2 linked regions of the Homo sapiens genome follow. The protein of the gene in region 1 purifies or fractionates together with the protein of each later gene. This does not show direct contact. Each region holds a gene or a part of one and is shown on either strand. Other genes may lie near its edges. The genes, in order: CACTIN and FGF13.

Region 1 (3,643 bases):
AACTGAAGCAGGAGCAGGGCGTGGAGAGCGAGCCGCTGTTCCCCATCCTCAAGCAGGAGCCCCAGTCCCCCAGCCGCAGGTAGGCCCGGCCGGCACCCCGGGGACGCCGATGCAGACGCGGAGCAGGATGGAGGGGCCGTGGGCAGCCTCCGCGCCTCCAACGCTCTCTCCTCCCAGCCTGGAGCCTGAGGACGCGGCGCCCACCCCGCCCGGGCCCTCCTCGGAGGGCGGCCCCGCGGAGGCCGAGGTGGACGGCGCGACCCCGACAGAGGGCGACGGCGACGGGGACGGTGAGGGCGAGGGCGAGGGCGAGGCGGTGCTCATGGAGGAGGACCTGATCCAGCAGAGCCTGGACGACTACGACGCCGGCAGGTACAGCCCGCGGCTGCTCACGGCGCACGAGCTGCCACTGGACGCGCACGTGCTGGAACCGGATGAGGACCTGCAGCGCCTGCAGCTCTCGCGCCAGCAGCTCCAGGTCACGGGTAAGGGCGGGGCTGGAGGCCAGGGGGTGGGGCCAGTGGGGCGAGCTGGGGGCGGGGCTTCTCCAGCCTCATTTCCCGGCCGAAGCCGCTGGCGTCAGTGGGGAGCTGCTTGCTGCTTCTCCCCCGGGTCTCTGAGCGTGCATTCCGTCACCTGCACGCGCACTGGGGCGTTCCTTCATTCATCCTGGGCTTGCTGGCCCACTGGCCTTGGGGCCACAGGTGGTGGAAGCTTTTACCGGCCGCTGTCCGAGCACTCCCTGGGCAGCCTCCGTCCTAAGACAGAGGAGAAAATACTGGCTTCAGAAAACCCCTGGGCCAGGACCCCCTCGGGGGTCATGCGTGGGGCTGGATCCCGCAGCCAGGCCCTAACCACCAGGTTCTCCTGTCGCTCGGCGGGGAAGCGCGCTGCGCTTGGTCCCCACCCAGGAGGACGATAGACATGAAGACCAAGGTCCGGGGCTCGGGGCGGATGGTGTGGGTCTCCGGGTCGCCCAGGCCCTGTCCCCTCCCCATGTGCCTTAGCTCGCCCCAGCCTGTTTTCCTTTTGCGGGAGGCACCAGCGGCCGCCCCTGCCAGAGAGGCTAGGAGGGAGGCCAGGACCCAGGGGGAGGCCGAGGCCCGGGTGAACGCCGTCCCGCCCGCAGGAGACGCCAGCGAGAGCGCCGAGGACATCTTCTTCCGGCGGGCCAAGGAGGGCATGGGCCAGGACGAGGCGCAGTTCAGCGTGGAGATGCCACTCACCGGCAAGGCCTACCTGTGGGCCGACAAGTACCGGCCACGCAAGCCGCGCTTCTTCAACCGCGTGCACACGGGCTTCGAGTGGAACAAGTACAACCAGACGCACTACGACTTTGACAACCCACCGCCCAAGATCGTGCAGGGATACAAGTTCAACATCTTCTACCCCGACCTCATCGACAAGCGCTCCACGCCCGAGTACTTCCTGGAGGCCTGCGCCGACAACAAGGATTTCGCCATCCTGCGCTTCCACGCGGGGCCGCCCTACGAGGACATCGCTTTCAAGATCGTCAACCGCGAGTGGGAATACTCGCACCGCCACGGCTTCCGCTGCCAGTTTGCCAACGGCATCTTCCAGCTGTGGTTTCACTTCAAGCGCTACCGCTATCGGCGGTGACGGCCCTGGGGAACGGCAGGCAGGTGTCCTCGGGGGCACAGTAAAGGGGCTTCGGTGAAGCTGGTGGTCACTCCGGGGCCGCTGTCTGGGCTGCAGGGCCGCGGGTTCACGTCCCACCTCAGGCCGCATCTTTCTTTCGCCAGGCCTCAGTTTCCTCCTATATAAAAGGGGGGTCACCATTGAGCCTGCCATGGTGAGCTGAGGAGACACTGGGACAGGCTGGCCTAGGGTCCTGATGCAACGGAGGGGGCGCTAGGGGCATCTTTCGAGCACGAGGGTGGCCAGCAGCCGCCAGCTGACCTCACCGTCCAGGCGGACACTCTCCACCGCCCCTCAGCCAGGCTGGGTGGGGCCCACAGGGCCTGCCCCAAGTGGCGGCCACACAGGGTGTTGTGGAGATGGGCCAGAGGGGCCTGGGCTTGGCGGTGCCAGGCTCGTGAGAAGCAGGAAACTCAAGGCCAGCCCTGCCACATCACGGGGCACCCACTGGGCGTGAGGCAGAGCCCGCGGCTGTGGGGCAGCTCCAGCCCTGCCCACAGGCCACCCTCGCCCGCACAGGCAGCACTGAGGCCGGGACCCTGCTGGCGCCCGATCCGCCACTGCAGAAGAGACCCTCTGTGGACACCCACACTCTGCAGGGACTGGCCCCCAACTCACCCCGTGCTGGCTGGTGGGGTCCATTTCCCCGCAGCGGGTATGGAGGATGCGTCGAGGTCCCTGTCTCTGTCAAGGTCGTGGGAACCAAAAGTCACTGAGCCGTCCTCCCCCCACCTCTGAGCACAGGGCCTGGAGGGCAGGGGCTCCCCGAAGGCTGGGGGTTGGAGAAGGGTGAGGGGCTTCCCCCAGGGATCCCCCCACCTGGCCTGCTCACGGGGCCTTGGAGCATGAGACCAGTGACCCCGAGTTTTGCCCATATCAGGACAGTGGCTCCTTCTCACTCCCCTTTCTCAGGCCAGGAGGGCCGAGGGCCACACGGGTGCCACAGCCCAGGTCGGAGTGGCCCAGCCGGCAGGCTTGTTCTTCAGCATCCGACGGGAACATCTCCAACAGAAGCAAAACGGAAAGTGCCTCCCGGACCCCCAGAGGGCCACCCAACCTCACCAGTCACCAGCCCCAGACCACCCACAGCCCCTCCCAGACACCCCGCCTCATCTGGAAATAGTTCCGTTTGTTTCTCTAAAAAGACTTGTAGGTGGGAAAAAAAATCTTTTGTTCTCATGGAATTGGCCTATTGGCAAGATCGCATGTTTTTTTAATAAACGTTGTATTTTAGAATAATCTTAGGTTTGCAGAAATGCAGAGAGTGTAACGTGTCCGACGCCCCACACCCGCTGCCCTAGTTGCTGCTGGCATTTGTGACACAGCGCATTTGTCCCAAGGGAAGAGCCTGGGAAACAACACGGCACCCAACTGGGGCCCGGTGGTCCCTTGGGAGCTGTGTTAGTGCCCGGATCTGTCTTTGCCCCCCACCCCTCTGCCTTGCCTCCCACAGTGGGGGTGACAGTCCATTTCCCAGACGACAGGAGGGAGGGTACAAGGGTGGACACAGCTGCTGGCCTGGGCCCAGGCTCTCATGGGGGCAGCGCTTGGCCATGCCTGGGGGCATTCGTGGTGGTCCCACCTTGGGGCTGCTCCTGGCGTGGAGTGAGTGGAGGCCAGGGATGCTGCCCAATGTGCTTCAGTGCCCAGGATGAGCCTCCCCAAATGTCCTCACTGCAGTAGGCAGAGGTGCAAGGCAGATCCTGCACTCCCCTGGGGCACTGGTCACCTCCCAGCCCCCACCTCTAACAGGATCCCGGAAGTCTGTGGCACAGGGCTTGGGAACTGGCCAGGGAAGTGCATCTGATCAGCGTCCGCTCTCCACACCGCAGACCCTGGCCCACCCTGACCAGCCTACTCCAGAATCCCAAATCGCATTGCAGCACACACAACACTGCCATCCCCAGCCCAGCCTTCAGCAGACATCACAAGTTGATGGCAGATGGCCAGAGCCATCTTAGAATCCTCTGGGCAGCCTCTTGCC
Region 2 (3,820 bases), on another chromosome or scaffold:
AGGCTACCACTTGCAGCTGCAGGCGGATGGAACCATTGATGGCACCAAAGATGAGGACAGCACTTACAGTAAGTGACTGCAAAATAAATAGTATATGCCAGCATGTTGTTAACATTCTGTTTTTATTTATTTTAAAAATAAATACGCTTTCCTAAATCCTGAATTAAATGCAAAATATATTCACACTACATAATCCTGTTTACACAGGTTAACCTAAAGGAAGTTGAATATGAGTCTGTCTAAGATAGTAAACTAGGGCAAATAATGTTGACACCATCTGAAGAATAATCCAAATGTCATCTCCATGGAAATCTAGATAGATTTATGGCTATCCTTTGGATTTTATTACTTTTTTCCCACAGAAAATTTACTCACCCACACACTGATCCAGAAATAGCATGTTATCTCTACTCTTAAGAACCGGTCTTAACCCAAGAGAGAGGAGTGGTTTCATACCATGAAAATTCATCATTACAAGCTTTCACTTCTGCTCCCTGCTCCACACACACACTGATAACTCTGAGACTAGTGGAATTTTAACATTGAGATACCTCCGCAGGTGGGTAAAGGGATTTCTTTTAGTTCTTTCTTTTTAACCATGGTTTCAGACCAAATTGGAGACTATAATGGTGAGCCTAAAAAAGAAACACATAAAAAATAATTAGGTTTTATTTCCAATTACTGAAAGAAGGTGATTCCAAGATGTTACGTAACCTTTAATTACATGTTTTATTTATTAGGAGTAATAAAAATATAAACTCACAAATAGTGCAGGCTTCTCCTCAATGATGATTGATGTTTTCTTGCAATTTACAGATTTCTGGAGACTTACTAAATGTTCCACAAGGCTAAAACACTTAGTTCTCACAATTTTTTTTGTTTTCTCCAATTTCTACTGAATTTCTCTCAAACCCTTTGATAATTTCGCATTAATATTCCAATTGTCGGCTGAGAAAATAACCAAGGAAACTAGGTCTGAATGCTAAGCAGTATACTCTGCAGCTTTTTAAGAGTTGTATGGCTACAGCAATGCCATTGACGAGGGTCTCAATAAGTGTAAAGAGTTTCCCACCTTTTAGGAATGCTTCGTGGGCTGATGGCCGATCTATAACCTCGAGAGGAAGTCACTTTTAATTACCATTGAAGAAAGCTTTGTTGGTATGGAGGATGAAAAAACCTCATACTGAATGGTTCTTCACTGTTTTGCAAAAGTTCTATGTCACTGTTGTGATATTAAAGTTTTATAGTAAATCCTAGTTGTTCTTTTATGCATAGTCTTCTATTTGAAACTATTAGGCAAGTGTAACTAGAGGGCTTTACTGTAATCAAATAACAGACATTAGTGTATAGTGATCATCTGCAATAAAACATTCCCATAAGTTATTGTGCAAATTGATATTTGGGGAAGGAATTAGGGGATGTAAGCTGCCCTGCTTTCCAGAGTGCCTCAGGAAAATGGGTCTGTTGAGCATTATTGAAGGCAAGTTCATGATTAGCTGCCAGTGAGCCTATCCAGTCACGTTTCTTTCCCCTTTTTAACATCTCCGGGTACAAATCAGAGAAGAAATATTTTGGATCTGGTGTTCACATGTGTTTCCTGAAAAGAAATAAAAAAAAAGTAGATAATTCATGTGCTGTGTCCTATGAACAGCAATATACCAAATTCATCGAGATCACATTCTAAGTAATCATTTTAAGAGATACACACACACACACCACACACGCATATATCAAGGCTCCATTTCTTACTGTGGAGCTTTAAATCATACAGTAGGTTTTACTCTTCAGTTCCTACATATGCATAGCTTCTGCCTTTGGTTGTCTTATAACTGACTGATACGCATGGCATTTCTGTGTACTACTAATGATATTGAAAGACCATTAAAGAACATAGCCTGATAACAGGAATCTGTATTTAGGCAGATTAAAATAGAGAGGTAAGTCAACTAAAGGTAAGTATTGTCATAACCTGATGCATACAAATGGAAAGTATCTCAATAGAAATAGCAAGTCAGTAGAGCTTGGATCTGCTCCTGATGTTAAGAGTGACCAGAAGCTAGTGAGCTAGCTCAGCTTTGCCATTGAGGATATTGTGGGGCATAAGCCATCATGAAACAAGAAGGTTTAATGATTAAACTGGTATATCATGAAGGCCAGCTATCCAAATGTATTCTTTTTTTTTCCTTAAAACCAAGCCGTTTTATTGGTATTAATTGTTTAATTGTGCATAACGAGAATACAAGTTGTTTTTTTCAACTATCACTCATGTATATAATATTTCCCTAATATGTATTCGTGATACTATGTTTATATTTTTCTTACTCTTCTTATTTTTATTAACCTTCATTATTTTCAGCATATTTTCTCATTTAGTTTAATTTGATTGAATTGCGTTATTTTTATTCAGACATAGTAAGCAATGTCCTGATAAATCAGTTCACATTTATCCAGATATATCCATTTCTGAAAACATATGTTTGATATTATGCATTTCACCTTACCTTACGTAGATTTATTACAATGATAAATGTCAGTTCAATAAAATCTCATCATGAGGAAATCAGCCATTGTAAATTATGTATTTTCCCTTGAAAAGGAAAAGATGATAGACATTCCATGGCAGTAATTTTATTATGTCTGCCCTGGGTGCAAGGAAGGACATTTTAAAAGACTAGTTTTCCCTTTCTCTTCAAACTCACGGTAGCATTATCAGTTCAACATGTTGCCTTTCCAACCTACGTTAATATATACTTTCATTAATTATTCTCTTTTGAGAAATTGACCTTGGCCAACTGATGAAGAAGCATGGCTTCAGTGTTGCCTTCAGCAAACACTGGGTGCCAACTAGGTACATGGCTCTGATTAAGTGGCCCTTCAAATAGAAGGTGTTTGTTTTTATGCAGACATAACAGAGAACAAACAAGAAACACAGGCACATTTATGTTTTAAAAGCTTCTTCAAAACTTTCACTGAAATGGAAGAAGAGATTTTAGGTATTTAATGAATGTGTTTTAAATCCATAAATGAAGTCAACTGTTTTCTTCTCATGTTTATAGTATTTTTATCCTGATCAAAATAATATATTAAATCCATGAGGAAAGGTACCAGATATAGAGAAACAAAAGCACATAGGAGGATATTTATTTGGTTTAAGCTCACCCCTGATATAATTTCTTTGCATTTTTATCTGGGCAGACTGTCCCTTTAGACATATTTTAAACAAACCCGGTTTATGATCTATCTTGAATGTTTAAAGAAATGAAAAGATCGTAGTAGTATGATCAGTCAATCCCTAGATTCGCTACTCTCAACAAGTTTTTATTTTGGGGTGATGTTTTTTGTTTTTTAATCAGGCTTCATGGAAATTTAAAGTACATAGTGAAAAGTACATAGTTTTGCTATATAGTTAATACCATTATTCAAGATTAAATAATCACAGGAATGTACTGCTGATGTTTTTTTCTTCTATTCCTCCTTCTGTTTTCTGATGTTTGAAATTTAGACATTTCATTGCTCATTAAAACCTGAGTCAGAGTGATTGGAGAACACGGTGAAAATCAAATCAGTTTTTTTTAGTCTCTCTCTGTTTCTTTCTTGTGCTTGTTATAAGCTGCATTAAGAGAACTAAGAAAGTTCATAATATTATTTTAAAAACTGAAGTTCTATAAATAATTCTGAATTTCATTTATCATTCTCTGTCATTTATTACTATGACTAAACTAGGTGTCAAGCATATACTGATATTATAGTTGTCAAGTGGTATGTAGTGATATGGCTTTTAAACCAACCCCATGTTGGAAGTTTTGCTTTAGTTTTTTAG

Evidence for each region.
Region 2: the proteins of CACTIN (region 1) and FGF13 purify together in Homo sapiens (co-immunoprecipitation; one large-scale study listed by IntAct). This does not show direct contact.

What each region holds. Positions count from the first base shown.
Region 1 is NC_000019.10:3,609,900-3,613,542, reverse strand, and holds the end of CACTIN (splicing factor Cactin), read left to right. Parts: coding exon 1-79; exon of another isoform or gene 80-177; coding exon 178-485; exon of another isoform or gene 486-758; intron 759-1,129; coding exon 1,130-1,620; 3' UTR 1,621-2,898; downstream 2,899-3,643. UniProt on the Homo sapiens protein: Plays a role in pre-mRNA splicing by facilitating excision of a subset of introns. Required for the splicing of CDCA5/Sororin, a regulator of sister chromatid cohesion. Involved in the regulation of innate immune response.
Region 2 is NC_000023.11:138,705,066-138,708,885, reverse strand, and holds part of FGF13 (fibroblast growth factor 13), read left to right. Parts: coding exon 1-68; intron 69-3,820. UniProt on the Homo sapiens protein: Microtubule-binding protein which directly binds tubulin and is involved in both polymerization and stabilization of microtubules.